Homo sapiens: one gene and its partners. The protein of the gene in region 1 interacts with the protein of each later gene in a pairwise test. Each region holds a gene or a part of one and is shown in the gene's direction. Other genes may lie near its edges.

What was found.
Region 2: the proteins of RDX (region 1) and DRD3 interact in a two-hybrid assay, tested with the Homo sapiens proteins (one study listed by BioGRID).
Region 3: the proteins of RDX (region 1) and KIRREL3 interact in binary tests that used the Homo sapiens proteins (3 or more experiments, as listed by UniProt).

Annotation. Positions count from the first base shown.
Region 1 is NC_000011.10:110,256,984-110,267,721, reverse strand, and holds part of RDX (radixin), read left to right. Parts: intron 1-2,847; coding exon 2,848-2,943; intron 2,944-3,487; coding exon 3,488-3,762; intron 3,763-9,532; coding exon 9,533-9,616; intron 9,617-9,808; coding exon 9,809-9,955; intron 9,956-10,738. UniProt on the Homo sapiens protein: Probably plays a crucial role in the binding of the barbed end of actin filaments to the plasma membrane.
Region 2 is NC_000003.12:114,174,146-114,185,368, reverse strand, and holds the start of DRD3 (D(3) dopamine receptor), read left to right. Parts: upstream 1-6,316; 5' UTR 6,317-6,712; intron 6,713-9,175; exon of another isoform or gene 9,176-9,443; intron 9,444-11,223. UniProt on the Homo sapiens protein: Dopamine receptor whose activity is mediated by G proteins which inhibit adenylyl cyclase. Promotes cell proliferation.
Region 3 is NC_000011.10:126,420,033-126,430,770, reverse strand, and holds the end of KIRREL3 (kin of IRRE-like protein 3 isoform 1 precursor), read left to right. Parts: intron 1-1,482; coding exon 1,483-1,592; intron 1,593-5,046; coding exon 5,047-5,133; intron 5,134-5,747; coding exon 5,748-6,191; 3' UTR 6,192-7,413; downstream 7,414-10,738. UniProt on the Homo sapiens protein: Synaptic adhesion molecule required for the formation of target-specific synapses. Required for formation of target-specific synapses at hippocampal mossy fiber synapses.

The DNA of each region.
Region 1 (10,738 bases):
AAAGTGTTGGGATCACAGATGTGAGCCACTGTGCCCAGCCAGTGTTTTTTCTTTTTTTCTGTCATTTCAGTGAAAATTTTCAAGAGTGGGAAAGTAAATGGAAGGGTTCAGTTTGCTGTCTTGAAACCAAAAGCCTGGAATGTTTTAAGATTATTTGTGTGTGTGTGTGTGTGTGTGTGTGTGTGTGTGTGTGTGTGTGTGTGTGTTTTGAGACGGAGTCTCGCTCTGGCACCCAGGCTGGAGTGCAGTGGCGCGAACTCGGCTCACTGCAGCCTCTGCCTCCTGGGCTCAAGCAATTCTACTGTCTCAGCCTCCTGAGTAACTGGGATTATGGGTGTGCACCACCACACCTGGCTAATTTTTGTATTTTTAGCAGAGATGGGGTTTCACCATGTTGACCAGGCTGGTCTTGAACTCTTAGCCTCAAGTGATCTAGCTGCCTTGGCCTCCCAAAGTGCTGGTATAGGCGTGAGCCACCCTGCCCTGCCAAATGTTTTAACATTATTTTTTAAAAAACAGGCTGGGCACGATGGCTCATGCCTATAATCCCAACACTTTGGGAGGCTGAGGTGGGCAGATCCCTTGAGCTCAGGAGGTCAAGACCAGCCTGGGCAACATAGTGAGACCCTATCTCTACTAAAAATATAAAAAATTAGCTAGGTTTGGTGGTGCATGCCTGTGGTCCGAGCTACTCGGGAGGCTGAGGTGGGAGGATCACTTGAGCCTGGGGTGGGGGTGGAGGTTGCAGTGAACTGAGATTGCACCACTGCACTCCAGCCTGGGTGACAGAGTGAGACCCCGTCTCAAAACAAACAAACAAACAAACAAACCAAGGGCCAAGCGCAGTGGCTTGCATCTATAATCCCAGCATTTTGAGAGGCTGAAGTGGGAGGATCACTTGAGGCCAGGAGTTTAAGATTAGCCTTGGCGACATAGCAAGACCCCTGCCTCTACAGAAAACAAAACAAAACAAAACAAAAAAAAACATTAACTAGGTGTGGTGGAATGTGCCTCTAGTCCCAGCCATTCAGGAGGCTGAGGCAGGAGGATTGCTTCAGCCCAGGAGGTCAAGGCTCCAGTGAGCCGTGAATCACACCACTGTACTCCATTGTGGGTACAGAGTGAGACCCTGTCTTTAAAAAAAAAAAATAAGCAAAAACTCCCACAAAAAACCAAGAATGTTTATTATTTAAGAACTGATATTGAATCTTTCTGTAAAGCTTTTAAAATGTTAATGAACTTTTACCTCCCCTGGATCATTTTCCTCATTTTATTTTAAATACAGATTTTTTTAAAAAACATATGCTTTTGTTAGGTGTGGGTAAGTCCTGGGTGTGTATCCTAACTCCACCACTTTATTTACTCTTACTTTATTTTCTTTTTTTTTTTGAGACGGAGTCTTGCTCTGTCGCCCAGGCTGGAGTGCAGTGGCACGATCTCGGCTCACTGCAAGCTCCGCTTCCCGGGTTCACGCCATTCTCCTGCTTCTGCCTCCCAAGTGGCTGGGACTACAGGCGCATGCCACCACGCCCAGCTAATTTTTTTTTTTTTTTGTATTTTTAGTAGTGATGAAGTTTCACCGTGTTAGTCAGGATGGTCTTGATCTCCTGACTTTGTGATCCGCCCGCCTCGGCCTCCCAAAGTGCTGGGATTACAGACGTGAGCCACTGCGCACAGCCTACTTAGTCTTACTTTTGAGTATCTACCACAGGCTGATCATTCTGTGAGATGCTATGGATTTTAAGACACATAAATCAATAATCTCTGTCCATAAGTATTATGCAGTCAAGGAGGGTAAATAGACACACTGCTAATAACACAATTATGATAGAGTAAATTTTCTAATAGCAGGATAGATAAAGTCCTATGGGAATATCAGGGAACAAGTGATTAATTTTATCTAGATGGTAGGAGAGCTTTATTCACAGAAGGCACGTTAGTTGAGCTTGTCCTTAAAGAATAAATTGTTCAATAAGTCATAAAAATACAGAAGACCCATTCTAGGCAGAGGAAAAAACATCAGCAAAATTGTAGAAGGGTGGAATTTATGGTATGTTCTAAGAATGGTTTCTTGCTCAGTGAAGGTAGAACATGGAATATATCAGACTTTTCTTATCACCAAAATGATACCATTTGCCCTAAATATACCAATAGGGTACTTGTGGGGGTAAATAGAAATTGGAACGTATGATTATGAAAACTATATATATATATATATATATTTTCAAGACTCTTGTTATTGTTGAGGTCATGATAGATAAGGAAAAGGAGGTATGAAAAAGTGGATCAAGTAAGAGGATTGAAGTGACACTACAAAATTGAGGATTAGAGGCCAGGTGCAGTGGCTTACGCCTATAATCCCAAGACTTTGGAAGGCCGAGGCAGGCAGATCACCTGAGGTCAGGAGTTTGAGACCAACCTGGCCAACATGGTGAAACCCCATCTCTACTAAAAATACAAAAAATTAGCTAGGCGTGGTAGTGCATACCTGTAATCACAGCTACTTTGGAGGCTGAGGCAGGAGAATCACTTGAATGGAGACGGAAGTTGCGGTGAGCCAAGATTGTGCCATTGCACCCCAGCCTGGGTGACAAGAACAAAAAAAAAAAAAACAAAAAAAAAAACTTCTTTTCAAAAAAAAAAAAAGAAAAATTGAGTATAGAAAACTTGAATTTGAGTTTTCAAAAATGTTCCTTTAATATCTTAAATTTAGGGAAAGCCTTTTCTATGGCAAAGGAATATACGTATACTTACATAGTTTTGTTCTCCTTTTGAAGTGTAGTATCATCTAGACACAATGTGTATGTTGGACTGAAATTGTGTTTTTTTGTTGTTGTTGTGTTTTAGGTGGTGAAAACAGTTGGTTTGCGTGAGGTCTGGTTTTTTGGGCTGCAGTATGTAGACAGCAAAGGTTATTCTACATGGCTTAAACTAAATAAAAAGGTAAAATATGTACGATAACATTAAACTAATAATTATGTTAAGTTGAAGTTATGAATTTGTGCTGGAAAAGCTAAGTCTGACTGATTGCAAGCTTCCTTTTGTAGTTATCTGTTAATCATTATGAGGTACCATGTTTTTTTAAATTCAATCAGGCACCATCAGCTTATCATCTCAAAAAAAAAAAAAAGAAATGCTTACTTTTCCTATTTGAAAACTTAGCCTATAACAAATATTAAAGCAGATATTACAAATGGCATACTAAGTACTTCAATTTTGATGTAAATACCTGTAGGATAAGCTTCTCAAGAATATGAAAAAAAGTTTTCAATTTGGTTATTAGAATCTGAGTTATAGGTCACATTCAAGAGCATAGAATCTTTTACCACATATATTTGTTTACAGATTTAGACTATTACACACTAAAATCTTCATAGATTTAGAATCTATTTCACTTCATTTTCTTCCAAAAAGAATTTGATGTGACTAGGTCTAATTATTGTAAACTTAAGATTTTTGTTGATTATACTTGAAATTATTTTTCCAGGTAACACAGCAGGATGTTAAAAAAGAGAATCCTTTACAGTTCAAGTTTAGAGCTAAATTCTTTCCTGAAGATGTTTCTGAGGAATTAATTCAAGAAATAACCCAGAGACTCTTCTTCTTGCAAGTTAAAGAAGCCATCTTAAATGATGAGATATATTGCCCGCCAGAAACTGCAGTTCTTTTGGCTTCCTATGCTGTCCAAGCCAAGTATGGAGATTACAATAAAGAGATTCATAAGCCAGGCTACCTGGCTAATGATAGACTCCTACCCCAGCGGTAAGTGAAACATGCGTTTGCATTATATTGTCTGAAAATTGTATTCTAGAAGTCTATAAATAAAACGTTTTTCAGGTTTTTTTTTTTTTTTGGAGACAGGGTCTGGACCTGTCACCCATGCTGGAGTGCAGTGGCGTGATCTCAGCCCACTGCAACCTCTGCCTCCTGGGTTCAAGCCATCCTTCCACCTCAGCCTCCTGAGTAGCTGGGTCTATAGGCACATGCCATTATGTCCGCTAATTTTTTTTTTAATGTATTTTTCATTGAGATGGGGTTTCATCATGTTGCCCAGGCTGGTCTCAAACTCCTGAGCTCAAGTGATCTGCCCGCCTCAGCCTCCCAAAGTGCTGGGATTACAGGCATGAGCCACCGCACCTGGCCTCTTTTTTTTTTTTTTCCAGATTTTAAGTTGCCAGCTGGATCATGGGGTATACTTCTAAAAATCATTACCTAGCACCTCCATAGATTTATATGCTCTGTAATTACCTAAGGTTGATCTATCTCTTCTTTCCTCATTCCCATAGGGTAAGCAATAAATGGAGGCAGTGATAATTTGGACTTGAGGAAAGGATGTGACTGTTGCTGCTTGGTACAAATTCTAACACAGGCAGGTGCTTAATAAGTGAGAGTAAGTGGCAGGCTGTGTTTTCTTCATAGAATTCTCTGACTTTTTCCCCCCCCGAGATAGAGCCTCACTCTGTCACCCAGGCTGGAGTGCAGTGGTGCAATCTCAGCTCGCTGAGATTGGAGTCTGCCTCTCAGGTTCAAGTGATTCTCCTGCCTCAGCCTCCCGAGTAGCTGGGATTACAGGCATCTGCCGCCATGCCCAGCTAATTTTTGTATTTTTAGCAGAGACAGGGTATCACTATGTTGGCCAGGCTGGTCTCGAACTCCTGACCTCAAGTGATCCTCCCACCTCGGTCTCCCAAAGTGCTGGGATTACAGGCGTGAGCCACTGCTCCTGGCTGAATTTTCTGACTTTCTGAAAAGGCTTTTTAAACTAGGTTTTCAGACTCCTAGGCTGGTGCATTGTTCTTATCTACAGTGTACTGCTGCTTCTATAATGGCTATTTTAAAATAATATGGCATAGGAAAAAATTATCAGAAGACCTAAATTTTGAGTACCGATTCCACCCTTTGCTATATATGTGACCTTAGGTACATGACCTAAAACCTCTGAGCTCAGTATCTAAATCTGCAAAGTGGGGATAATAATCCTTCTCTGGCTACCTTCTAGTTTATGATTATAATTAATGAACTATATGATTTACAGTTTTAATTGTCAAGTGTGAAACGTGTTATTTAGTAGTATTGATGGAATCTAGAAGATGGAACATCAAATATTACTTTTTAATTTTTTTTTTTTTTCTTTGAGATGGAGTCTTGCTCTGTTGCCCAGGCTGGAGTGCAGTGGCACGATCTCGGCTCACTGCAACCTCCGCCTCCCGGATTCAAGCGATTCTCCTGCCTCAGTCTCCTCCTGAGCAGCTGGGATTACAGGCACACACAACCACACCTGGCTAATTTTTGCATTTTTAGTGGAGATGGAGTTTCACCGTGTTGGTCAGGCTGGTCTCGAACTCCTGATCTCAAATGATCCACCCGCTTCGGCCTCCCAAAGTGCTGGGATTATAGGCGTGAGTCACCATGCTCAGCCAAAATTCAATTATTAAATGTCACAGTGTTCCGCCCTTTAATTTTGTAGCAATAGTAGTCACCTTGGAAAAGGATAGAATTATGTAAGTTGTTCACCAAGAGAGTCAGGAATATGAGATATCTGATAGTCTGTTTATATTCTGGTTTTGAATGTTATTCTAACCTAAGATTCTTCATCTTAGATTACTGAATTGAGTAATCAGACTATTATGGTGGAATTTCATTTCATATAAGGATTACCTTTTGTTTTATAATCAGAATTACTTTAATTTTTTTTTTAAATGTTAAAGAATAGGAATGCTTTATCTAAACAAGTACAGCATTGATCTTTCAGTGTTAAGCCAGATTGCTGTTTGGTTGAGCAGCAGATGAAGTAATTGGCTTACATTTCATAACTCATGTGATTGAAAAAAATCTCTTAAACACTACAATAACACACAAGCACAGTTTATTTTAAATATGGGTGTGCTCTAACCTACTCTATTTAAAAAGAAGGAAGGTGGCTAAATGCTTTAGATAGGGTTGCTTGTGGTTGCTAGTGCAAATGCCTATTTCAAGATTTGTTCCTTAATTTTGTAGGTCAGTTGTTCCTTCAGAGTTGATATTCCATGGAGGACTAATTCAAGCCATGTTATCTTAAAATGAGACTTAGTCATAAAGTTAGAATACCATTTTTTTTTCATTTTCTGTTTAGAACAGAGAGGATATTTTCACAGTGATTGGCTTATTCCAGTATGGTATATCGGACACTTTTTCTCAGTATCTAAGTACAGTCTGGGGAGGAAATGAGTAATTAGGTTATTTGGTGATAACAAATCAAATAAAATAATTTAGTGATTCTGATACATTCTGATTTCTTGTATTGAAAAACCCAGATGAGCAATCTGTTCTTACTGTAGAAAAGTTTAGCTCTTGTGGTATAGATAATTAGCTCCACCAGATAGTATTGCTTCCCTTTGAAAAGAGCTAAATATACATAAACTTTTACATACCAGGTTTCTGACTTGGGCGGCTGGGTATTTGGTAATACCTTTTATCAAAATGAGTGGAAGAAAAAATACATTTGAGGGGGAAGATGAATTCAGTTTTGAACCTATTGAGTTTGAAATATGTGCAATATAACCAAGAGAGATATCTGGTATTTATTTGCATATGTGGGTGCAGACCTTTTAGAAACAGTCTTGGACTATAGATACAGTTTTGGGAGTAATCAGTGAATAGATGGTAATTAAACCATGAGAATGAAAGAGATCAACCTACCAAGTACATAAAAATGAGAAAAAGACCTAGGACAGATCTTGTTGGACCTCAGCTTTTGTCTTTGGGTTCTGCATTCACAGAGTCAACCAACCACAGATTGAAAATATGTGAAAAAAATAACACAGCAATGAAAAGGTACAAAATTTTAAAAATACAGGATAACAATACATAGCATTTGTAGTGTATTAGTGTATTATTATACTACATAGTAGTAATAATATAGTGTATTAGTATTATTAGCCTAGAGATGATTGAAAGTATACAAGAGGATGTGCATAGGTTATATGCAAATATTGCACCATTTTATATCAGGGACTTGAGCATCCACAGTTTTTGGTATCCAAGGGGAGTCCTGGAAGCAATCCTTTATGGATATGGAGGGACAACTGTACTGAGACACTGGCCACAGATTCAAGAATAATTCTATACTAGAAGATGGCTGGGCATGGTGGCACATGCTTGTAATCCCAGCTACTCGGGAATCTGAGACCTGAGAATCACTGGAACCCGGGAGGCGGAGGTTGCAGTGAGCCAAGATGGCGCCACTGCACTCCAGCCTGGGCGACAGAGCGAGACTCCATCTCAGAAAACAAGAATAATACCAGAAGAGTATTATATCATGGAAGCCAAGGTAAAAGAATACTTTGATGAAGAGAATGGTCAGCACTGCCAAATGGTACCAAGAGGTCAAATATGAGGAGAACTAAAGTATCTGTTGGAATAAGGAGCTTGGTAGTGACCTTAGAAGAGCAGTTTCCAGCCGGGTGTGGTGGCTCACACCTGTAATCCCAGCACTTTGGGAGGCCGAGGTGGGCGGATCACCTGAGGCTGGGAGTTCAAGACCAGGCTGACCAACATGGAGAAACCCCGTCTCTACTAAAAATACAAAATTAGCCGGGCGTGGTGGTGCATGCCTGTAATCCTAGCTACTGGAGAGGCTCAGGCAGGAGAATCGCTTGAACCCGGGAGGTGGAGTTTGCAGTGAGCCGAGATCATGCCATTGCACTCCAGCCTAGGCAACAAGAGCGAAACTCTGTCTAAAGAAAAAAAAAAAAAGAAGAACAGTTACCATAGAGTATTGGGTGTTTGAGCCAGATTATGGTAGACTGGGGGCAGTGGATGTCAGGTATGGAAATTGAGGTTAGTGTATAATGGACAGTCCATAAAAGAAAGTTGTCTCTGAAAAAGAAAAAAAAATAGGGGTTGGGAAAAATTGATTAATTCATTTATTCACTCTACAAATTTTCGAGGCCCTCTTTAGTACTGGCATTGGGCATATAATTATGGTAAGCAATTGACTGCACTGGGTTATGTCTCCAAGGCTGATTGCATGCCTCTCTGTGAGCCCAGAGGCCAGACAGCAAGAAAGACAAGAAACTGTGGAAACCTAAGCTCTCTCAGAAGGAAGATGAAACTCTTCTCCCCAAAAGCAAGAGCTTGGAAAAGATGCCTAGAGAAAGGAGCAGAGTATAATAAGAACATAACAGTATGTCTGAGACCCCTTTAAGGAATTTACTCTAAGTAGTAGGTAACTTATCCAGGGGGAGATTTTATCATTCCTTTATGCTGCCAAGAAATCCTTGGGTTTCATGCAAGATTTTTTATATAGTAAAACAGTAATATTTTAACACCACAGCTTCTGCTGTCAGTAAAGTAGGATCTGGTAAATAAAGGTGAATAATTATCATATGAGCCAAAGAGAATAGAAGTCACAAACTGTAGTGTGCATAGTAGGTAACTTATAATCATGTTGACTTTGCTGATTTGGTGTTAAAATAGTAGTAGTAGAATATAATGTTTGTATTTGGCTGGGCGTGGTAGCTCACGCCTGTAATCCCAGCACTTTGGGAGGTCGAGGCAGGTGGATCACTTGAGGTCAGGAGTTCAAGACCAACCTGGCCAACATGGCGAAACCCCGTCTCTACTAAAAATACCAAAAAAACACACAAAAAAGAAAAATTAGCCAGGCATTATGGCGCACGCCTGTAATCCCAGCTACGCGGGAGGCCGAGAGCATCGTGGCACACACCTATAATCCCAGCTACTTGGGAGGTTGAGACAGGAGAATCACTTGAACCCAGGAAGCAGAGGTTGCAGTGAACCGAGATTGTGCCACTGCACTCCAGCCTGGGCAACAGAGCGAGACTCCATCTCAAAAAAAAAAAAAAAAAAAAAAGAATGTATTTGCTCACATTTGAATTAAGAACACTGGAAGGATACAAAAACAAGTTATTTGGGGGGTATTGGACTGGAGTATGACTTTTCACTCTACTTTTTAATTGAAAGTATTACCTACCTAAAACAACAAAATTAGTAGCAAAAAAGTAAATACATAAAGGAAGAATTAGGGCCCAAGAATTCTGGTTTTCAGTCTGGTCTTTATCTATTAACAATGAGCCATTTTTTTATCTAATGTTTTATTCCTTTGAACTGTTTGGGTTCCTATAAGCTATCTTTGTAATCACTTTATGGAGCAAGTATTATTTCAAGGAATTTAAGGATCCTAGACACTTAACTTTGAGATAATTACTGATTATTATGCAGTTGTAAAAAAAAGAGATCCCTGGTATCCTTCTCCCAGCATTCCCTGATGGTAACATCTTGTGTAACTACAGTACAATATTACAAACAAGATATTGACATTGGTACAATCTAGCCACCTTATTCAGATTACATCAGTTTTACCTGCACTCATTTCTGTGTGTATGTAATTTAGTTCTATGCAATTTCATCATGTGTATTAATTGTCTGACAACTACCACAGTCAAGTTACTGAAAGGATTCTTTACTTTTAAAGTGTATGCTTTTGAATCTTAAAGTCATTATAATTTTTTTTTTTTTTTGGTCCTCTTAGTGTATTGGAACAACACAAACTAACAAAAGAACAGTGGGAAGAAAGAATACAGAACTGGCATGAAGAACATAGAGGAATGTTAAGGTATTTGGGTAGCTATTTTCTATGTTTTCTTTTTTCCTTCAAAGTATTTTCATGTCGTAACATTTATTATTACATTATTTCCAAAAGATTGTTTGACTTATGTAAAGTACTAATTTTTAATTCCAGGTATTTTGCAACTTTAGTTTGATATGCTCCTACTTAAATATATTACATTTAGTTTTATTTCAACAGGGAGGATTCTATGATGGAATACCTGAAGATTGCACAAGATCTAGAAATGTATGGAGTCAACTATTTTGAAATAAAAAATAAAAAAGGAACTGAATTGTGGCTAGGTGTTGATGCTTTGGGTCTGAATATTTATGAGCATGACGACAAGTAAGTAAATTAGTTGCATAGTGAACTAGTCATTGTTCAGTGGTCTAAATGACGTTAATCTTATGTCCTGTTTTTCAAAGTAGTTTCTTGTCTTGATTACCCTTACTATTTTCAAACTAAAAGATGAATTAATGACACATAGACTTGTAGATATTTTACCTCCATTTTCTTATCACCTTGCAGTTTCAGAGTTCTACTTTTCAGTGTATTTATCAAATGAGATGATTGACTTTTATTTGAATTGTGCTGCTTTTAGCTCTTGTGAGTTATGTCTAGTAACTTAATTAAAATTTGCTCCCTCGATAGGTGAGAAATAATTCTTTAAAATGCTATTATGCTTGACAAATAGATTGAAATTGAACATACATAAGAAATCAGGAGCAATGAGAGAATGGATTTAATAAATATGTCTATCACATCTTAGAGGATTTTTTTGAACATTTATATATAGGAATTGTTTTAAATATGTTTGGACATTAATACAATAGAATATCCCTGTATTACACATATTGAACACTGTAATTATATCTTGAAATTGACCAAATAGTTTTTTATTATACATATATAATTCATCAATATTTTATTATATGTATAATATATGTATATTTACATATACATGTATATGTACTATACAAATACATGGGTAAATACTATATAGAGACGGTATATTATACACATACACATGCAATATAAAATACATCAGACTCTTACTTTTCAGGATTAATAACTCAATTGTCTTAGACTTTAATTTATTTACCATACCACATAAGCATGCAAGTCTAT
Region 2 (11,223 bases), on another chromosome or scaffold:
GGCAAGAAAGAAATCAGCAAACTTGCAGATACAATGAAAATTATCAGTCTGAGGAACAAAAAGAAAAACGATTGAAGAAAAGTGAACAGAGCCTAAAAGACATAGGAGACACCATCAAGTGAACCAACTAACACACTGTGACAGCACCAGAAAGAGAAGGGCTAGATAAAGGGTAAGGAGAATATTTGAAGAAATAATGGCAGAAAAGTTTCTAAATCTGATGAAAGACATAAACATCCAAGAAGCACAATGAACTTCAAGATGAACCCACACCAAGACTCACTATAATCAAACTTCTGAAATATAAGGACAGTGAATTATGAAAGCGCAAAAAAAGAACTGATTCATCATATGCAAGGGCTCTTTGGTAAGAATATTAACAAATTTCTCATGAGAAACTTTGGCCCATCAGGTAGTGGGACAACGTATTCAAAATGCTAAAAGAAAAAAATACCTGTCAACCAAGAATTTTATATCAGAACAATTGTCCTTCAAAAGTGAAGGAGGTCAGTTGCAGTGACTCACACATATAATCCCAACATTTTGGGAGGCCAGGGTGGGCAGATCACTTGAATTCAGGAGTTCGAGACCAGCCTGGCCAACATGGCAATACCCTGTCTTTACTAAAAATGCAAAAAATTAGCCAGATATGGTGACATGCACCTGTAGTCCCAGCTACTTGGGGGACTGAAGCAGGAAAAGAAGGAGAACATAAGACATTGCCAGATAAACAAAAGCTGAGGAGCATTACCACATTACCACTAGACTTTCCCTGCAAGAAATATTCAAGGGAGTCCTACAAGGTGAAATGAAAGGACATTAGACAGTAACTTGAAGCTGTATGAAGAAACAAAGAGCTCAATAAATGCAAGGACCTTTATAAAAGCTAGTAGTATTTTGCTATCTACATAATTTAAGAGACTAATACATTTAAAAGAAAACAATCATTAGTCTAAAAGCTAACATTATTGTAACTTTGGTTTGTGGCTCCATGTTTTGTTTTTTATATAATTTAAGAGACTAACGCATTTAAAATAATTATTAGTTTATGTTTGGTGTTACACAATATATAAAGGTATAATTTTATGACATTAACAACCAAAAAGAGTGAAGAAAGAATAGTAGAGGACCAGATATTTTATGTTATTGAAGTTAGACTGGTATAAACTCCAGTTAGAGTATTATAACTTTAGGATGTTAAATGTAATCTCCACTGCAACCAAAAAGAAATAGTTAAGGAATATAAACAAAAGGAAATAAGAAAGGAGATTAAACATTTCACCACAAAACATCAACTAAACACACACAAAAAAGAGTCATGCAGAGTGAGATGTGGGAAAGCTATAAGGCATATAGAAAACAAATAGCAAACAACAGAAGTAAGTCCTTCTTTATCAGTAATTTCTTTAAATGTAAATGGATTAAACTACCCAATCAAAAAACAGAGATCAGCAGAATGGATAAAAAACACATGATTGCTGGATATACTGTCTACAAGAAACTAACTTTAGATCCAAAGACACACACAAAAATAATAAAAAAGAGAAAAAGAAAACAAAGATACAATAGGTTGAAAGTGAAAAGATGGAAAAGGATATTCATGCAAATAGTAACCAAAAGAGAGCAGGAATGGCTAGACAAATATCAGACAAAAATGAATTTAAGTCAAAAAATTATGAAATAAAAAAGGGTATTATATATTAATAAAATATTTAATACAACAAGAAAATAGAGCAATTTTAAACATTAACATGCCTCATAACAGACGATCAAAATACATGAAGCAAAAACTGGTAGAATTAAAGAGAAAAATATACAATTCTACATTAATAGTTGGAAACTTTAACATTCCACCTTCAATCACAGATAGAACCACCAGACAGAAAATAAGTAAGAAAATAGAGGATATAAACAACACAATAAACCCACTAGACCTAAAAGACATATACAGAACACTCTACCCAACAACAATGATATGCACATTCTTTTCAAGTACACATGGGACATTTTCCAGGATGGGCCATATGTTAGGCCACAAATTGTGTCTCAATAGATTTTAAAAGACAAATGTCATACAAAGTCTTCCCTGATCATAATGGGAGGAAATTAGAAATCAATAACAGAGTAAAACTGGAAAACTCACATATTTGTAGAAATTAAACAACACACTTTTAAAGAATCAGTGGATCAAAGAATAAATTACAATGGAGGCATAATGCTCTTGAGGATGTGAAGATATTGGAACACTCATGCACTATTGATGGGAATGTAAAATGATACAGCTGCTGTGGAAAACAGTATGGTAGTACCTCAAAAAATTAGAAACAGAATTACCACATGAACCAGCAATTCCATTTCTGGATATATATCTAAAAGAGCTGAAAACAGGATCTCAAAAAGATATCTGAACACCTATGTTCATAGCAGTGTCATGCACAATAGCTAAAATGTGAAAGTAATTTAAGTGTCATCCATAGATGAACAGAAAAGCAAAATGTGGTACAATTGAATATTATTCAGCCTTGAAAAGAAAGAAAATTCTGACATATACTTCAATATCAATGAATTTTGAGAACATTATGCTAAGTGAAATAAGCCAGTCTGAAAAAGACAAATATAGTAGGATTCCACTTATATGAGGTACTTAGAGAATCGCTTAAACCTGGTAGGCTGAGGTTGCAGGGAGCCGAGATTGCACCACTGCACTGCAGCCTGGGTGACAGACGGAGACTCTGTCTCAAAAAACAGAAAAAGAAAAAAAGAAAAAATTAGATGATGATGGAGGGTAGTAAAAAACAGGAAGAAAATAGGTCGAAAAGTTAAGATAGAAGTAGAAAAGGGAGGTAACATGCAAGCACACAGAAGGGTAGATGCAGATATAAAAAACCACTATCATTTATTTATTTCCTTCCTTACTATTACTCTGCTACCTATAATGAGTGATTTGGTACAAATCTGATTGATTGAGAAGCCTCCTTCTGTTATTTCCTGCCATTCTCTTGTAGAAAGGAAGAAAGTGGTGCTCAATATTAGATAATAATAAGTGAGTTGAACTATTTTTCTTTCAAGAACTGTATTACAGCAGCAGAATGAATTCAAACATAAAACCTAACACTTTCTCAGATGGTTCTCATCTATCACCAGATCTCATTGGAGAGGAACAGGGGCTAAGGTTGAGAAGAAATAACCATACTACTGGACCACTCACTGCATTTGCCAACTTTCATTTACACTTTTACAACTTGAGGTCTGATTCCAGTGAAAAACATACTGAGAGGCTCTTGTTCAGACCAGATCAGTATCATGCAGTTTAAGATCATCATGATAATCAAATCTTCCAGTTCACAGTAAGGAATGCCAGTTATAATAAGACATGGAAACAAAATGTTCCTTTATTCATATAGGTCCTGCAAATTGCCTCCCCATAATGCTTCATTTAGTCTCCATACTGTCCTAGTGAGTGGGAACTCAGTGGGGGTTTAAAGTGGTGTACTCAATGGTCGGTGCTCAAGGCAAGGTTTCTTGTATCATTCCCTGGAACAGCATTTCAAAGACAAGAAGAGAATAGTCCCACCACAAACTTCACATCAATTTCCTTTCAAACAAAATCACTGAGTAACCATATGTATCAGAAGCCCACCATCTCTCTTCTCTTGCTCTAGACTTGCCACTTCAAGTTGAAAACATAAAGACTTTCCCTGATGAAGGGCCATTGGCTAGTACATGAGAATGTTCCAGCCATGCTATTGAGATGGAGTTTCTGGAAGGAAGATGAAAAAAATGATCTATATTTTTCTTGATTTCTGCCCAGGCATATCTCTTCTGTAGGCATCTTGGAGTTCTTCCCAGAAGGCATATCTCAATGCCAATCATGAATAAGGGTTCCACTTACTTAAAAGAATAAAATTGTTTGTTGTTGTATGAATGGGAAGTGCCAGATAAAAGGAGCAATTGCTAATCTTCACCTATAGTGAAGTCCAGAGAGAAAGGATCACTTCATTTACCCTGCTTCTCTTCTATTTCCACACCAATCCCTCCCCATTCACCACGGGGGTCAAGGAGTCTACCAGAGACAGCTAAGTCAGAACAGAGTTGACTGCCTAGATGTGTGATTTTAGGCATGTCAGTTAATTTTCCTGTCTCTTGTTCCTACACAGAATTAGAGTCTATATCACTCTTTATCTTCCTTTTACTTTTGCCAAAGGAAGGCACTAAAAACATGCTGAGGAATATCTTGCCAGCATTTACAACTGCCCTTGAAGAGAGAATATGTGTTCTCAACACAGAAAGTTAGAAATAGGGTTCTTCCTACTACATTCACGCATTATCAAGATAGCATTATCATTAGGCACAATGTCTTCAAATGTTAAAGAAAATAAACATAGGATACTGAAACGTGAAAACCATGTTGCTGAAAATGAGTGATATGAGGTTCTTAACTCCTTAGAAGGCCTTTGCTTCATTCTGCTCACATAACAGCCTGACATTACTCCCTGCTTTTATATGTCAGACAAGCCAAGTTTTAGCAGTGCATATTCTCTTGGTCCCCTTATCCAAGGGAAGAAAAGCCTTGGAGTTCACATTCAACCCAGGAGTTCTAGTCTTAGGGCATGTTCAATATAGTTATGTCATATAACTAATACATTTATGCCCAATAAGTTATGGGCAACCTTGGATATGGAACCTAACCTCTCTAACCCTCTGTATTAGTTTGCTAGGGATGCCATAACAAAATTCCACAGGCTAGGTGAATTAAACAAGAGAAATTTATTTTTGCACAGTTTTGAAGGGTAGAAATCCAAAATCAACAGGGTGGCAGGTTTGGTTTCTCCTGCAAGACCCCTCTCCTTGGCTTGCAGACAGATGCCATCTTCCTGTGTCCTTTCCTCTGTGTGCACATTTCTGGTGCCTCTTCTTTTTCTTATAGGAAACCAGTCATATTGGATTAGGGCGTACCCTCCAGGCCCCATTTTAACTTAACTCACACTTCAAAGATCTTACATCCAAATACAGTCATGTTCTAAGGTTAGGGCTTCAACACTTGAATTTTGGAATGACACAATTTAGTCCATAACAGCCTCTATAAAGATGGCATCATGAAGACTGATGTAATATAATTTACAGAATGATTTCTAAATCATCTAAATGATTTCTAAATATAATTATATACAAATGTATTATTAATATTATTATTACTGTCATAATTATTATTCTCTCTGACATATTATCAGTCTTTTGGGAAGTTTAAATTTTCTTCTTTTGGAAGACTATACCATAGTGGTTAAGAGAATTAGGTTGTTTAGATCCAAATCTTGGGTCAGCCACTTGTTAGCTGTGTGACTTTCAGACATTATACTAACCTCCATAAGCTTTAATTTTCCTATCCATAAATTAAGGATGGTAAAAAATAGTACCTGCCTTGTAGGGTTGTTGAAAGGATTAAAAGGAGCAATGCATTAAAATGACTGGCTAAAAGTACATGCTCAATAAATGATGGTTGTTATCAATAGCAGTATTTAGACCTTGTTGATGCTGCTGCCTTCTTTCTCAGCCAGCAGAGGTCTCCATCATAGTCAAACAAGAGCTAGCTTCCCTATAACTGCACCGCAGTTGCCAAGCACATCCACTGTTGGCAGAGAAAACAGCCGAAGAATTACCACACTGACCAAACAGAGGAGAAAAAAAAGAGAGAGAGAACAGGAAATGGTTAGGATGCCACAGTAAAATGTAAGATGAACAGGTGACCATAAGTTAGGATTGTTTATGTTCTACTGCTGACTTTCACTGATATTGTCCTTGGTTGCATCTCACTTTAGCTTGTTCCAAACCAGTTTTAAAAAAGGTATCTATGTATATATCACAGAGAAGCAGTAAGAATGAATTGGCAAATATTTATGAAGTCCTCTGAAAACAAGAAGTGCTGCTAAGTAAACATTTAACATTTCTTACAGTATTAAGCTTATTTCATCCTTATTGCCAGTTATACGCCATGCCTCAGTTTTGCTACCTTTGTAATATGTTTCCTTTAACCTTCTTTTCCCAGACAGGCTTACACCTCCAAGTTCAATTATCCTGTCAATTGTGTTTTAAATTGTACTGATTTCCATTAACCAATTGTGGTATCAATTTGATGATCTGTTCCTTCTGAACTAATCATCTTTACACCCACCAAAATCTGGAAAGGCAATTAAACTGAGGAAGGTGAGAGTTATTCAAGAGAAATTAAAGCATAAAGGTAAAAACAGTGGAAAAACTAAGATTAAAAAGAGCACTGAGGAGAAAATATACATGTACTAAAAAGCACAGTATCCGAGCAGATAGAGAGACAAAGAGGAAAAGAGAGCGAGGTAGAAAACGGATACTGCCTATGCCTACTCCATCCCTCTTTCAGCACCAAGGACAGAACCTCTGAGCGGCTGACCCAAGCAACGCTCAGTTTAGGGTCCCTCCCAAATCCTCTAAAGAAAACGGATACATTCGAAAGCAGCTATGAAACATGCACTAAGGTCTAATAGGGAAGCTGGAAAAGCAGCACTCAAGTAATTTCACCTTAGAGGCAAAAATGGGTGATTTCTTTCTGTTCATTTCATAGTTTCTGAGTCCTGAGAAAGGCAAAGTTTGCTTTGCTTGGGTATGTCTGCTGTCAGTAAATGGCTGCAGGAGCCGAAGTGGTAAACTCCTCGGTCTCCAGAAATCAGAAGAAAATTTTAGGGTAAGTAATTTTTCTTTTCGTTTCTAATTTAGGACATAGTATTTTCCTCAAGGTTATTTAATCAGCTTGGGGTTCTGTGGATCTCTAAAAATATGCATTAAAACTCAATATCCACTCTTATTTAAAAACCAAAGCCCTGAGGAAATGGTTTTCTTTTTCTTCTAAGTGGTTGGACAGCAGAAACCTTTTATATTCCTTTTTCTTTTATTTTTTCCCCCAAAATTGTATCCTTGTGGGCTCTAGAAGCTATATCAAGGAAGAATTAAAAGATAGAAAACAAAAAGCTGTTATTATTTCTAGGATTTGTATGGAAGTTGATTGTATTCCTCTTAAGGATTTTACTTAATTGTAAGGGTCTGTTATTTTAAACTCCTCAATTCAGCACCCTGGCAATTCAGAGCTGAAGGTTTGGAGAGGCACTATTTTCAATGGTCTATTTAAAGTCAGGCTGTTTCTAAGTCAGAATCCAATTATTCCCAGCAGAGATATGTAGTACTTGAGATGATGATTGTGTATGTTTCCTTTGATGATGGTATATGATTTTTAGGGTATTGTTATTTAATTGTGAGACTTCCATTACTTGCTGTAGCTTACTGGGGCAACAGAAGTCATTGCAATTAGGTATTTGTTCCAGTTCATGCATTTAGTTTAATTGAATACCATCAAAATACATGCATGAATAATAATGCAGCAATAGCAAAGTGAAACTTGGATTCTAAACTCATTGTGCATGACTATTTCACTTTATAGGTGAAGCCTTTGCTTACTGATACTAAAAGGTCTGTAAAATATCTGTCCTTAGATAAGAGTGAAGAACCACTGCTTGACATGGCATTAGGATGTCTTATAGTCAAGGAGAAGTAGAGACAATGTGAGAAAGATTCTTACTCGGCACTCATTTATTTGTAGTTGAATATTTTCAAGGGTCTGTATGGCTAGCAGTGAGCAAGGGTATTGAGCAAGGAAAATACTGACAGTATCCAAATGGGTGCCTAATATTAAAGCATCCATACAGAAGGCTATTTGTTATGGAATATACATTAAAGCAAATACCGAACAGTTTCTACTCAATATCAGATTCAATTTCTAATGCATTGAAGTTTGTCATCAATTAATATTTGCTTATTGATTGATTTATTTGCTGAGTTCCCCATTTTATCTCTGATTAGAATGGTAGGATGCTCAGTCTCTAGAGGTTGTGAAGGAAAGTGAGTATGCTCTGCTTTACTAGTCAGGTTTAATGAGGGGAAAAAACTGTTATCTTAGCTACTCAGTAACCAGCAATAGTTTTTCTCTGTACATTTACCAACAATGTAAATGTGCCCAAATACATAAATATGCTATGTATTGCAATCCATTTGTGAATCTTTTTCAGGAAAATAGGCAGCAATTTGCAAGAAGAAAGTAGCATAGAAATGCTAAAGACTATCTCTAATAATAATAACAATGTAACTCCCACTGGCTCTATGAGCAGTGTGCACCTGCATTACTTCACCAAGCCTAGTCAGATGATGTGACATGTTCACATACTCTGAACAAGTGAGATTGTAAAATTAGTACCCATTTCACATTTGTCTGCCTCACCCCAAAAAGTGGCATAGTTAAGTGGCATAGTTAAGAACATGAGCTCTGGAATCAGACAAATCTTGGGTTGAATCAACTCCATCATTTACTGGTTTGTGATCTCAGCAAGATATTTAACCTCTCTGTGACTCACCTTTTTTATCTAGAAAACTTGATAGGATAATAGTGCTTACCTTCTTCATCAGGTTGTTGTGAGGTTGAATGATGATAATGCTTATAAATTTTAGCTATAATTATTAATTTTATCAGGCAATATAGCAAGTCCGAATTACAGCCCAGACCAGAAAAGCTCTGGCGACTGGTGGTCAGGAGTCGTCTGAGTAAAAGATTAGATGTAGCAACAGCCAGAGATCTGTGAAATGAGTGAAGATGTGGTCATGGAACCCTGTTACTGAAGCGTTTTGTTCTGGGTTGAGTAAAATCCATCTCAACTCGGGAATGACAGTTTTGTGGGTTTTTTTTTACTTTGAGACAGGATCTTGCTCTGTCACCCAGGCTGGAGTGCAGTGGCACAATTATAGTTCACTGCAGCCTCTAACTCCTGGACTCAAGCAATCTTCCTGCCTCAGTCTTTCGAGTAGCTGGGAATACAGGCACATGGCATCACACGCAGCTAATTTTTCTTTTCTTTTATTTTTGCAAAGATGGAGTCTCACTATGTTGCCCAGGCTGATCTCAAACTCCTGGCCTCAAGTGATCCTTCCATCTCAGCCTCCCAAAGTGCTGGGATTACAGGAATGAGCCCCCAAGCAGGGCTGGGAATGACTAACGTCAACTTCCATGCTGCTATAAGTATTAAAATGCATGTAAAGTACTCATACTTGCCACACAGTAGTAGCCCAGATGTAGTTGTCTTCATCTTCATTTGTTTTCTTACAGAAAGAGAACAAATAATTAAAACTCTGTAAGTCTTAATGAGGTGCTAAGGAGGAACCCCACGAATGTTTCAGGAAGACTGTTATTCAGCACTGAGGGATTGAACATCAGCAAAGCAGGACAAATGTCATAACTGATGGGGACCTGACAACTCTCTGTTCCCCTGCCTTTTTAAATAGGTTATGCACTCACTCTAAGAGATGCCAGAACAAACTATAAAGACCAAGATAAATCAATACTTTGTAAGGCATTTAAAAGCTCATTAAAATGTGTAAGTAGTGTTATATGTAATGAATCTTAAAAGACTGACGCCAAGAGTAATCTTCTATTTCTCTGCCTTCTCTATTCTTTTACCTCCTATCCACTTTTAACTCCTAACACTGTTTGCTGGACTTTTTCCTCTGCCAAGAGGTTTGACAGCTACCTAAAAATAGTATAGCTGAATGCCAGTGGCTAATTATACAAAGGGAAACCCTCAACTCTGAAAATCAATTCTGAGCCTGATGTTGGAATCACAGTTGCATGGATTTCTGATTTCATATTTATTTTTTCCACATCTGATCTTAGATCCTTTATAGCAGAAGGTGGGTTAAACCGTGATTGTTCAGGTAGTTTCTGATGAGTTGTGGATGTGGGAGATGAAAGCAAAAATGAGTGAGATGCTAGATTACTCTCTGTCTCTCAGCTAATTGTTTCAACTTCCTCCCTGCTTAGATTTTGTAAGCATGAATGCCATCATGAATATCGTCCTGAATGTTTAAGCATGTCATCATGAATGTTGACATGATGACATTAAGAATGTCTTCATGAATGTTTAAGCATGAATGCCACCATGAATGTCAGTCATCATTTCCAAGTTCACTAGATACTTTACAATTGCAGCTTATTTAACTCTTCACCTATTCCCACTTTCCTCTTAACAATAAAAGCAACTATATTTCTAGTGCTATGTGCCAGACATTATGCTAGAGTGATGATTCTTCATGGGGAGAGCAATTTGCACCCCCGCTCCAGGATATGTGGCAATGTCTAGAAGCATTTTTTATTGTCCCAACTTGTGGGGAGGGGTATGCTACTGGCATCTAGTGGGTATATGTAAAGGATGCTGTTAAACCCCCCACAATGCACAGGACAACCTCCTCAACAAAGAATTATTCAGCCCAAATTGTCAGTAGTGCCAAACTTCATGTATATAATCTCATTTAGTCTTCATAATAACCTTATGGAATGGATATGATTATCTCCATTTTGCTGATGAGGAAACCAGCCTATCATTGTAAATTACTTAGAGAGTGATTGAGTTAATGAATTCTCTAGGCTCTTTGCTTCTTCTTACCTGAGACCCGTTTCCTATCTGTTAGCATATCTAACAGAGGGGAAAAGAAAGAAGAAAGCCCAGCTCAGTTCTGTGTTATATAAGCAACTCTGGTTTGAAAAAAAAAAAAAAAATCTAAGCAGGGAGGAAGTTGAAACAATTAGCTGAGGGATAGAGAGTAATCTAGCATCTCACTCATCTTTGCTTTCATCTCCCACATCCACAACTCATCAGAAACTACCTGAACAATCACGGTTTAACCCACCTGCTGCTATAAAGGATCTAAGATCAGATGTGGAAAAAATAAATATGAAATCAGAAATCCATGCAACTGTGATTCCAACATCAGGCTCAGAATTGATTTTCAGAGTTGAGGGTTTCCCTTCGTATAATTAGCCACTGGCATTCAGCTATACTATTTTTAGGTAGCTGTCAAACCTCTTGGCAGAGTAAAAAGTCCAGCAAAAGAGTAACAAGTATCCTAAGGTTTTATGCCTCCCTCTTACGTGGCAGGTGAGAGGAGGCTAAGACATTATTCACCAGTTGCAGACCCCAGAAAAGAGGGATTCTGGCCACTGTGTTCCAAAGTGGCCCAGTTGTGAAAGGGAAGACATTTGGGCCTCAGCCTGCCTTAAAAGTGGGAATATCCTTGAACAATCAGAAAGCATTGTATTTTTCCAAAAGCTCTTGGCAGCAGCGGTGCTATCTCCAGGGTAGCGGCTGCCCTCCTCTGAAT
Region 3 (10,738 bases), about 16 Mb from region 1:
CAGTTATTCCAGGCCTGTCTCCTCATTTATAATGAGGATATGACTCTGATGGCCCCATCTGGCACTAACATTATATAAGTGTAATGCAAAAAATGAATCACCAGAATGGGTCTGCTCCTCTGCCACTCGGCAGCCTGCACATGTTTGAAGAAAGCTGTTCCCCTTGCATTTTCTGCACTCCGAGCTAAGCAGCCTTGGCTCTCAAGACCACCCCAGCAATGATGTGGTCTCAGGACCTCCATCACCACCGTCTCAGTGGAAATTATAGGGAAGCATACAAATATATACACATACGCATATATACACATATATATACGGTTTTTTTTTATATAGGGTCTCTCTCTTTTGGCCAGGCTGAAGTGCAGTGACACGATCTCAGCTCACTGCAACCTCCGCCTCCCAGGTTCAAGCGATTCTCGTGCCTAAGCCTCCTGAGTCGCTGGGATTACAGGCGTGTGCCATCATGCCTTGCTATTTTTTTAATTTTTTGCAGAGACAGGATTTCACCATGTTGCCCAGGCTGGTCTCGAACTCCTGGCCTCAAGTGGTCCGCCTTCCTCGGCCTCCCAATGTGCTGGGATTACAGGCGTGAGCCACCGCACCAGCTCCTCAAGAATTTCCTTTTTTTTTTTTGAGACAGAGTCTCATCCTGTTGCCCAGGCTGGAGTGCAGTGGCACAATCTCGGCTTACCGCAGCCGCTGCCTCCCGGGTTCATTCAAGCGAGTCTCATGCTCAGCCTCCCGAGTAGCTGGCATTACAGGCACCCACCACCACGCCCAGCTAATTTTTGGATTTTTAATAGAGACGGGGTTTCACCATGTTGGCCAGGCTGGTGTCAAACTCCTGACCTCGTGATCTGCCCACCTCGGCCTCCCAAAGTGCTGGGATTACAGGCGTGAGCCACCGCACCCAGCCAAGAATTTTCTAACAGAGCTCTCCAACTAGAAACAGCCTGCCTCCTGCAGAAGTAGCAGTAAAGCTTCCATCACGGAGGCGTCGACAGAGAAGCTGCCCACTGCCTCAGGGGCGTTTCTCTTTGGATGGGGGTTGGCCATGGGCACTTTGAGGTCCTTTCCAACACTGAGATTTATGGTTCTATGAATGGAGGGATTGGAGCCCGCCTGGTAGAGCAGGTCAGAGAAGACTTCTAGAAGGAAGTGAGAATTCAGTAGGATGAAAAGGACCTAGCTCAGTAAGGCGGACAAGTGGCTGAAGACGATCTTTCAAGCCAAGGGTGCATGGCTGAGGGGCATGTGACAGGAGGCAGGCCGGCCATGGGGTCAGCCTCCTCTGAGGCCCAAACACCCACAGCATCTCCATATGGAGGTTCTATTGGTGGGGGGCTGGTGAAGCTGCTGAGTTCAGGGGCTGGAGGGGAAATGCAGAGGGTGGCAGGGCAGGGGCAGGGGACTGCAAGGGAGCTTGACATCTCAAAGGTAAGAACTAAATCTATCATCTACACTTTACTATTTTATCTCCAGATCTCAAAGGTGTTGTGTCAGCCAAAAATGATATCCGAGTGGAAATTGTCCACAAGGAACCAGCCTCTGGTCGGGAGGGTGAGGAGCACTCCACCATCAAGCAGCTGATGGTAAGAATGCAATTACGCCCCATCCCATCCCGTGACTCCATTCCCAGAAGGTCCTGGGACTAGAGGCTTCTCAATGAACTAGATGCTTCCAAAAAGCAGAGCAGCGTTCAAGATGCCCCCTGCCCACCCCACAATAGGTGAGGCACACACTCTCAGCCAACAAATGTGAGTGTGTGCCTGCTGTACTGTGCTTGTGTTCTGGCAGACTCAAAGACATCTAAGATGCAGTCCAGGCCAGGTGCAGTGGCTCACGCTTGCAATCCCAACACTTTGGGAGACCGAGTTGGGCGGATCACTTGAGATTAGGAGTTCGAGACCAGCCTGGCCAACATGGTGAAACTACATCTCTACTAAAAATACAAAAATTAGCTGGGCGTGGTGGCGGGCGCCTGTAATCCCAGCTACTTGGGAAGCTGAGGCAGGAGAATTGCTTGAACCCAGGAGGTGGAGGTTGCAGTGAGCTGAGATCAGGCCACTGCACCCCAGCCTGGGTGAGAGCGAGACTCCATCTCAAAACAACAACAACAACAAAAATGCAGTCTACCCTTCAGAGAGCCTGGCTCTTCAGTAAGGAGAAAAGACATATGCATAAATTGCCACAATATGTTGTTATATAACATATAATCCCCTCCCCTCCCCCGCACACACACACATAGCTATTATAGATATTCAATACATGTCCCTCTCCCTCATCCCCCGCACCCCACCAAAACAGTCTGCAAGAAACACAGGTTCCTCCTTGGGGACTGGATTGCCAGTCAACTCATCACTTCTCCAGGCACATCAAGCCTGCTCCTCCTCTTCCGAATCCCCATTTATGGGCCATCATCTACCTAGTTGTCCAAGCAGAAACCTGGACAACCATGCTAGAAGTTTCTGGTTGCCTCGGTCGTAACATGTTGGAGTGGAGGCAGCAGAGCAAGGAATATAGTAGATGGGCTTTCTGGTGCCTCCATGTCCTCATCCATGAGATGGGTCTGAAAGCCACAGTATACAGGGCTGTGGTGAGGGTGAAGTGGACAAAACTCAGAAGGGCTTGAAGCCCATGGAACACAATAAGTGCTCAAGAAATATTAGCGGTTTATGTTGCTAGAGGGTGAGCAGCTGCTGCTGTGTTCATCCCGGGGTCTTCGGAGCCTTACACAGGCCCTGGTAGAGGCTCACAGACGTTTACTGAATCAAACTGACTTTTCCCTCGGCTACGCTTTCTCTCTCCAATTGATTTTCAGGTCCTGTCAATTCCACTTCAAAAAGTGTCTCAAATGTGTGCCCCACCTGTCCTCCACCATCACTTCTTTACTTCAGGCCTCATCATTGCTCCCCTGGATGATTACAGCAGCCTCCCAGTTGGTCTCAGCCTTGTAGTCTTTTGTCTCTTTTCTCAATCCACCCTCGAGAGCCTTGAGAAAGCAGCCTTTCTAAAATGCAAATCTGGTCCTGTTACTTGCCCACTTAAAATCCCTCGGTGGCTCCCCACATCTGCTGGACAAAGCCCAACTTCCTGGTGTGCCATCAGGGCTCCTCAGTGCCAGGCAACCACCAACCTCTCCAGCTCCATTTTCCGGCCAAGTACATCTGGCCTTCCAGACATGCCAAAGAGCTTGATTCCTGGCCTTCGAATCTTTTGGACTTCAAAGGCCTGTGCACCGGCTGTTCTCTCTGCCTGCTAATTTTGTCTGTTGAATCTCACATTCTCCCATAACAATCAACTCCAAGATGTTCCGGGCTTGTCCTCCCCACCCCTGGCGGAGCTGTGCACCTTCTGCTCTCCCAAAACACTTTGTATGTGCCTCCTTTATAGTGCATTCCCCCAATTCCATGTCAGCTTCCCCAGTTATCCCAGAGCTCCTCAAGGGCAAAGGTCATGTTTCTGAGTCTACGCTCATCTATTTCCCCTGGGGCCTAACACAGGGCCTGACACTGTTAAAATTAACACAGTGGAGTGTTTAGTTTTACGAGGGAGGAAACCACAGCCTAGATGTGAGAAGGGATGACGTCTCTATACTTAAGCTTAATCATGTGTGTCCTTCATCCCAAACGGGACCTTGAATTCTCTCCCATCGGCAAACATTCTGTTTGCCTCAGACTGTCTCCACATCCCTTAGTCCAAATCCACAGGCAAGAGTGGGGGCAGCTCAGTGTCAGGTGGGAGCAGAAGGGACTTGCTGAGGGCTCTGGGCTAAGCCACCCCTTGAGGATATCGTCATTCTCGCATTCCCTTCACCTCCTGGCCCCAAGACAGCCCCATCTGCAAGAAGGGGCAGACTTAGAAGTTGAATCTGATGGGAAAGAAGGTCTCCAGTCCAGACAGTGCCAGAGCATTTACTGGAAAAATGAACCGCATGGTCTCCTTAGTGAGGAGGCAGCCGGGTGGCCGCACTTTGGCTGATTCTACAGGGCTCCAAAAAGAAACGAGGAAAGCAGGTTGCAAGGGAGAAGAAACATCCCGGCCCAGAGAGTAGGAGGGAACCTACTACCTATACCGTGCAACTAGCAGAGACACATGGCAAGCCTCTCGTGTGTCACAGGTTAAGCATCACTGTGGTTATTCAGATTAATTCATATGCCCACTGTGTGTGGAGTATGCTTTTTCATCTTATGTCTAATAATTTTGTTAATTTTCAGTAATTTAGAGCTAAGCCACTTTGCCTATTCATTCAACATATACATACCATTTGAAGCAGCTCTATTGTATATCAGGCACTGTGCTAGGCATTGGCAAATCAAATAATTAAGAGATTCCATCCCAAAAGCAGGCAAGGTCAGTGACCACAACATGCAAAGCACTGAACCAGGTGTGGGAGGACCCAGAGACAAGCAGGAAGTGATCCTTGCCCTCAGGCTGTTTGGCATCTCTAAGGAAGTTAACTTTTCATGAGAATAACAGGTGTGGCCCATGTCGCCAGCATCTCACAGATGGTTATTCCTTGTGACTCCCTAAGGCCTGCACTAGGCCTGCACGCTGGAAAAGAAACTGCCCTAAGGAGCCTTGCCATGCCCAGTGACTGACATTCTGAAATTATTTATCTACAAGTCCATCTCCCTGATGAGCAGAGCTGTATCTTAATGTACGTTAATCTGTGGATCTCTGGTCCTTAGCAGAGCAACTGGCCGGCATTTTACAATAAACGTTCAGTCAATGGAATTGAATCAGCCATGGGAGATCTCTGGTGATGCCCTCGCCCAAGCGAGGAAAGTATGGCCTCGGATACCTGCCCCTCGCCTCCCCTAACTGCCCCTCACCTCACCTACTCACCCACCCCCCTCAACTGCTTCCCTGTCTCCTAGGATGGGGCTCCAGGAACTCATCTTGACTCTTTCACATGGTCCAGGCAGTGAGGGGTGGTGGGGGTTATACAGGGCAATCTTTTGAGTTTCTGATCTCATCTTTTCCTTGGGGGAAGTGGAGGTTTAGCCACCTCCTATCTACTGAGCAGCCTTTTTTGGGTTGCAGATGGACCGGGGTGAATTCCAGCAAGACTCAGTCCTGAAACAGCTGGAGGTCCTCAAAGAAGAGGAGAAAGAGTTTCAGAACCTGAAGGTAAGAAGGGCCCCGGGTTATAAGACACAGCCATGGAATCTGGTCTTTAGCTCTGATGGCCCAAACCCCAAATCTATACAACAAATGACAGCAAGTCAGAGAAGAAAAGGTCAGAGGCCAGCTTGGTGGCAGGTGCCCGTCCCTGCCTAAGGCACCTCCTCTCCCTACCCCAACGCTGAGGAGGCTGAGAGAGCTAAGGCTGAGACTCCCCAGTTCTCTTCCACAGCCTCCTCACATGTAGATTCAAAATGAAGCATCCATGTTCTGGATAAAAACAATTAAAAAGCCTGACTTTCAAATGACCCTGCATTGCCCTGACATAAACCCAGTCAAGAGCCTCTGCTTCCCTCCTTCGGCCCTCAGCCCTCACCCTTGCCGTCCCTCCCCTCCTGGGGTCCGCAGTCCCCCTTCTGCCATCTCCTGTTCAGTGTCCTTCTTCCCCTGCACCTTCCCTGCAGCTGTTCACCCCTGAGTTTGCTCCCTACCAGGTTGCTCCCTTCCTCCTGTTTTCCCTCTTCCCTCCCCGCATAAGGGGACGGGCTCAGCCTGGAAACCCCAGCCACGCTCAGTGGAGACTCCACCAGGTGACGCTCCTCTTCCTCTCGCCCATCCAGGACCCCACCAATGGCTACTACAGCGTCAACACCTTCAAAGAGCACCACTCAACCCCGACCATCTCCCTCTCCAGCTGCCAGCCCGACCTGCGTCCTGCGGGCAAGCAGCGTGTGCCCACAGGCATGTCCTTCACCAACATCTACAGCACCCTGAGCGGCCAGGGCCGCCTCTACGACTACGGGCAGCGGTTTGTGCTGGGCATGGGCAGCTCGTCCATCGAGCTTTGTGAGCGGGAGTTCCAGAGAGGCTCCCTCAGCGACAGCAGCTCCTTCCTGGACACGCAGTGTGACAGCAGCGTCAGCAGCAGCGGCAAGCAGGATGGCTATGTGCAGTTCGACAAGGCCAGCAAGGCTTCTGCTTCCTCCTCCCACCACTCCCAGTCCTCGTCCCAGAACTCTGACCCCAGTCGACCCCTGCAGCGGCGGATGCAGACTCACGTCTAAGGATCACACACCGCGGGTGGGGACGGGCCAGGGAAGAGGTCAGGGCACGTTCTGGTTGTCCAGGGACGAGGGGTACTTTGCAGAGGACACCAGAATTGGCCACTTCCAGGACAGCCTCCCAGCGCCTCTGCCACTGCCTTCCTTCGAAGCTCTGATCAAGCACAAATCTGGGTCCCCAGGTGCTGTGTGCCAGAGGTGGGCGGGTGGGGAGACAGACAGAGGCTGCGGCTGAGTGCGCTGTGCTTAGTGCTGGACACCCGTGTCCCCGGCCCTTTCCTGGAGGCCCCTCTACCACCTGCTCTGCCCACAGGCACAAGTGGCAGCTATAACTCTGCTTTCATGAAACTGCGGTCCACTCTCTGGTCTCTCTGTGGGCTCTACCCCTCGCTGACCAGAAGCTCTACCTACCCCTGTGCCTGTGCTCCCATACAGCCCTGGGGAGAAGGGGATGACGTCTTCCCAGCACTGAGCTGCCCCAGAAACCCCGGCTCCCCACTGCTGCTCATAGCCCATACCCTGGAGGCTGACAAGCCAGAAATGGCCTTGGCTAAAGGAGCCTCTCTCTCACCAGGCTGGCCGGGAGCCCACCCCCAATTTGTTTGGTGTTTTGTGTCCATACTCTTGCAGTTCTGTCCTTGGACTTGATGCCGCTGAACTCTGCGGTGGGACCGGTCCGGTCAGAGCCTGGTGTACTGGGGGGAGGGAGGGAGGAGGGAGCCTGTGCTGACGGAGCACCTCGCCGGGTGTGCCCCTCCTGGGCTGTGTGACCCCAGCCTCCCCACCCACCTCCTGCTTTGTGTACTCCTCCCCTCCCCCTCAGCACAATCGGAGTTCATATAAGAAGTGCGGGAGCTTCTCTGGTCAGGGTTCTCTGAACACTTATGGAGAGAGTGCTTCCTGGGAAGTGTGGCGTTTGAAGGGGCTGGAGGGCAGGTCTTTAAGATGGCGAGACTGCCCTTCTCAGCTGATAAACACAAGAACGGCGATCCTGTCTTCAGTAAGGCTCCACGAGAAGAGAGGAAGTATATCTACACCTCAACCCTCCTAGTCACCACCTGAAATAAATGTTAGGGACACTACTCCAACATGTTTGTTCTGTTCTTTTGTTCCTACAAAGCCACAGGAAGAACCCAAGAGCTCATAGAATGCGTTGGGAACCCAAGGTTCTCTGCCCTCCTTTGATTCAATCTTCCTAGACAATAAAGGCAGTTGATAGCTCTGATTGTGGTGGCAATTAAACCTACAGGCTGACTCCTCTCCCCTGTGGGTGGATTCAATCCAGAGGACGTGTGGGACTCACCAGCCACCTGACTCAGCCAAATATAGCTCAGAGGCAGAGTGGTCACACTAGATACTGGCCAGGCCATTCTGGACCCTTCCTCTCAGCAATATTCTGAAGGCAAAGTTCCCTCCTCTAGAGGTTCAGAGAACAAGACCCGCTGGAAAGAGTCTAGACCACCAGGCACCCTAACATTTTAATATACAACTCAAATAGTGTTCTAAGAAGGGCCTCGCTTGTGGGTAAGTTTGATGTGGTCATGGCAGATGGGGTGGATAAACAGGGGCAAGTTAGAGTGCTCGTTGAGGGAGTGGGATTCAAATGGAACTTTAAAGAACCCAAATTGTCCCTAAGGTGGCTTGGAGGTTCCTTGTCAGTTTTAAACCTTTCTTCTCCAACCTTCCCTGGTAGTTCTTACCCATCATGGGAACCTTCATCACACCAGTTTGTGCTTCTTTCCAGACACTGATTCCTTGGATGGTCCCAATCCACAGATTCTATACACAGCCTACACAGCTCCTCCACTCAGAGGAATTTTCTGCTTCGATCATATTTCCAAGTGCTTCGAAATTTCCCAGAAACCTGGCTATCTTCCTTTGTAGCCCCTAAGCCTGAGGGAGTAAAAACTGATCAGAAATGTTAAGTGTATGTCCACAGCCCACATTCTGCTGCTGGTACCATGCTGGCCTAGCATAGACATCAGGATGCTGGCCCCTGCCCTCTCTAGGTTAATCTCAGCAAGCTTGCTTGCTTTCTTTCCATATATGTTTTCCATTGGCTAACAGAGAATAAGGATCCAAGACCATATGCACAATGCCTTGGTGTGCTGGAATAAGGAAAAGATGACTTTAGAGGATCTGTTCATTTACTTCTCTTATTTCTCTTGGTCTTCCCACCTTGGATATGCGTAGACCATTTACCTCCTAGTCCTCAGCACAGCTGACCCTGCCCCTTGCTCCTGCTACACACACACACACACACACACACACACACACACACACACAGAGTGTGCACTAATAGGGTGGAGGTGCCCATTCTTCCATTCTTTCCTGGAAACCAAAATTATAAACGAGAAGAATGGGGAAGAAATATGTTCTATAAAATAAGCCCTTTGTCCTGTCCCTCGGCACACCCAGGGTAAGAATATGGACTGAGCAGAGCGCACCGGGGCAGCTGCAAACACTAGGCTGCACGGTGCCCAACCCTCTTAGCACTGTCCAATGCCCAATGCAGCAAAGAATAGCCCAAGGGATAGGAGGTCACAAGGATGATCTTTGTGAGAGACAAGAGCATGGAGGGAAAAAATGAGGGGGATCTGGAGGACTCTGGGGCATTGAGAAGCCTGAACTGAGCTGAGTACATCCCTCAGCTGTCTCCAGCACTATCTATTTCTCACAAATGAGTGGGGGTGCAGAAAAGCTGGTGAAGGGAGGTGCTGAAAAACAAAGGCAGTGGGAAGCCCCGAATTCCCCCATAGGTGATTTCACATTAAATAAAATGAGTGCTCTACATTTGTAATCTTATTTAATGCTCACAATTCTACGAAGTATCACCATTTTACAGATGTGGGTTGAGGCTTAAAGAAGCCAGAAAACTTGCCCAGCGTCAAGCGCTAACGAGTGACAAACATGAGCTTTATACACACATTCATCCTAGAATGTCGCTGGAAGTGGCTGATGGTAAAGGCCATCTGCTAGCATGCGCTCTGGGGCAGGCCGGGCGAGGACAAGCACAGCTCCATTAGGAAGGCAAGACTGTGCTAGCATGCGCTCTGGGGCAGGCCGGGCGAGGACAAGCACAGCTCCATTAGGAAGGCAAGACTGGCGTCCTCCACCCTAAGTCCCCAAATGACCCGGAAAGACCACAAAGCCCTGGGAAACAAAGCTCTTCTGTGTATCAAATCACCCCCACCTCTACCAAGGACGGCAGCCAGTCTTCCGATAGCTTTAAACTTCATTACTGGCTCAGAGTCACTGGACGGAGGCCCAGTCTCTAATTCTCAGGTTCAAGATCAGTCGGCCAAGGCCAGGGTTATTTCCACCACCTCTTCCACTTTCAGGGAATAGGAAGTACTTTCACGTGAAGAGCAAAAATGTCACATCAAATCCATTTCTGACGAAGCCTTTTTGAACAAATTCTATAAAGCAAGAGGCCATGAAGCCGATTTTAAGTTTCCAGAATGGAAAGGAGCCAGGGAAATGAAAACAAACATGGTGCAGTCCTTGGGAGATTTCTTAGAACAAGAGAAAGGAGTCAACCAAAATTCCATTTCTCACTTCCTGGTTGGAGAGGAGTATGTGCTGCTTGGGTCATTTGCTATTATGGAATCAGAACCGAAGGCACAAGGTACATACACACACACACACACACACACACACACACACACGTTTGATTAGTTCTTCCCAGGTATTATGTGTGCGGTTTGTCCTGGCACCAGAAAAAAAAAAAAAAAAAGACAAAAGGGAGTCTTGAGATTAGTTTCTTCTCTGGGAGCTTTCTCTATAAAACACACTTTTTATTGAAATAAAAATATAAAAATGTAAATAAAGACTATCTTAATTTGCAAATAGATTTTTATTTTAAATGCTCCTTGGTGTGCACATCTAAAGAAACAAACACTTAGATGTAGACCAATGACAACTAAATCTTAAATTTCACTTCCCCTTTCAAAACGGCTTTTGAAAATCTCTTATCTAAGTTGTTCTTAGGAACTGTAACCACATACCAGCAATTTGCAGCTTTCAAATCAAAATTAGCAGCAGTCTCTGGGAGTCACTGATAAAGAGCTCATTCACTGATAGCCGCCTCTCATTTCCAGTGAGCCTCCAACCATCCTTTCCCCAACTCCTTATGTTTCAGTGTTCCTAACCAGGTCATAAACTGAGAAAAATTTTAAAAAATTTAAAAGCTCCTCTTCTTTCTAGAAATAAGGAATTGTTTTCCTGGCCAAGTCCATGTTTGCCGCAAAACCATTAATTCTTTCCCTCTCTAACCGCCATTCTTCCTTGGCCCTCCTCCCGTCCTCGCTAACAGCAAGTTCTTTGACATACACTGAAAGCTTTCATTACTACAAGCCCTATAAGTCTTCCTACTCCCACAGCCTCCATCTTTAAAAGGCCTTCTGTGAATATACACCATTCACAAGATACGTCATCAAATTGTCATCTACATCCCTGGTTATATTTATGCCTCTGCCAATATCTGCCTGCCACTCCATGTTCCCAGTGCTTTTCTCGGAAACAGTCCACTTAGCCCACCCACGGGGCTG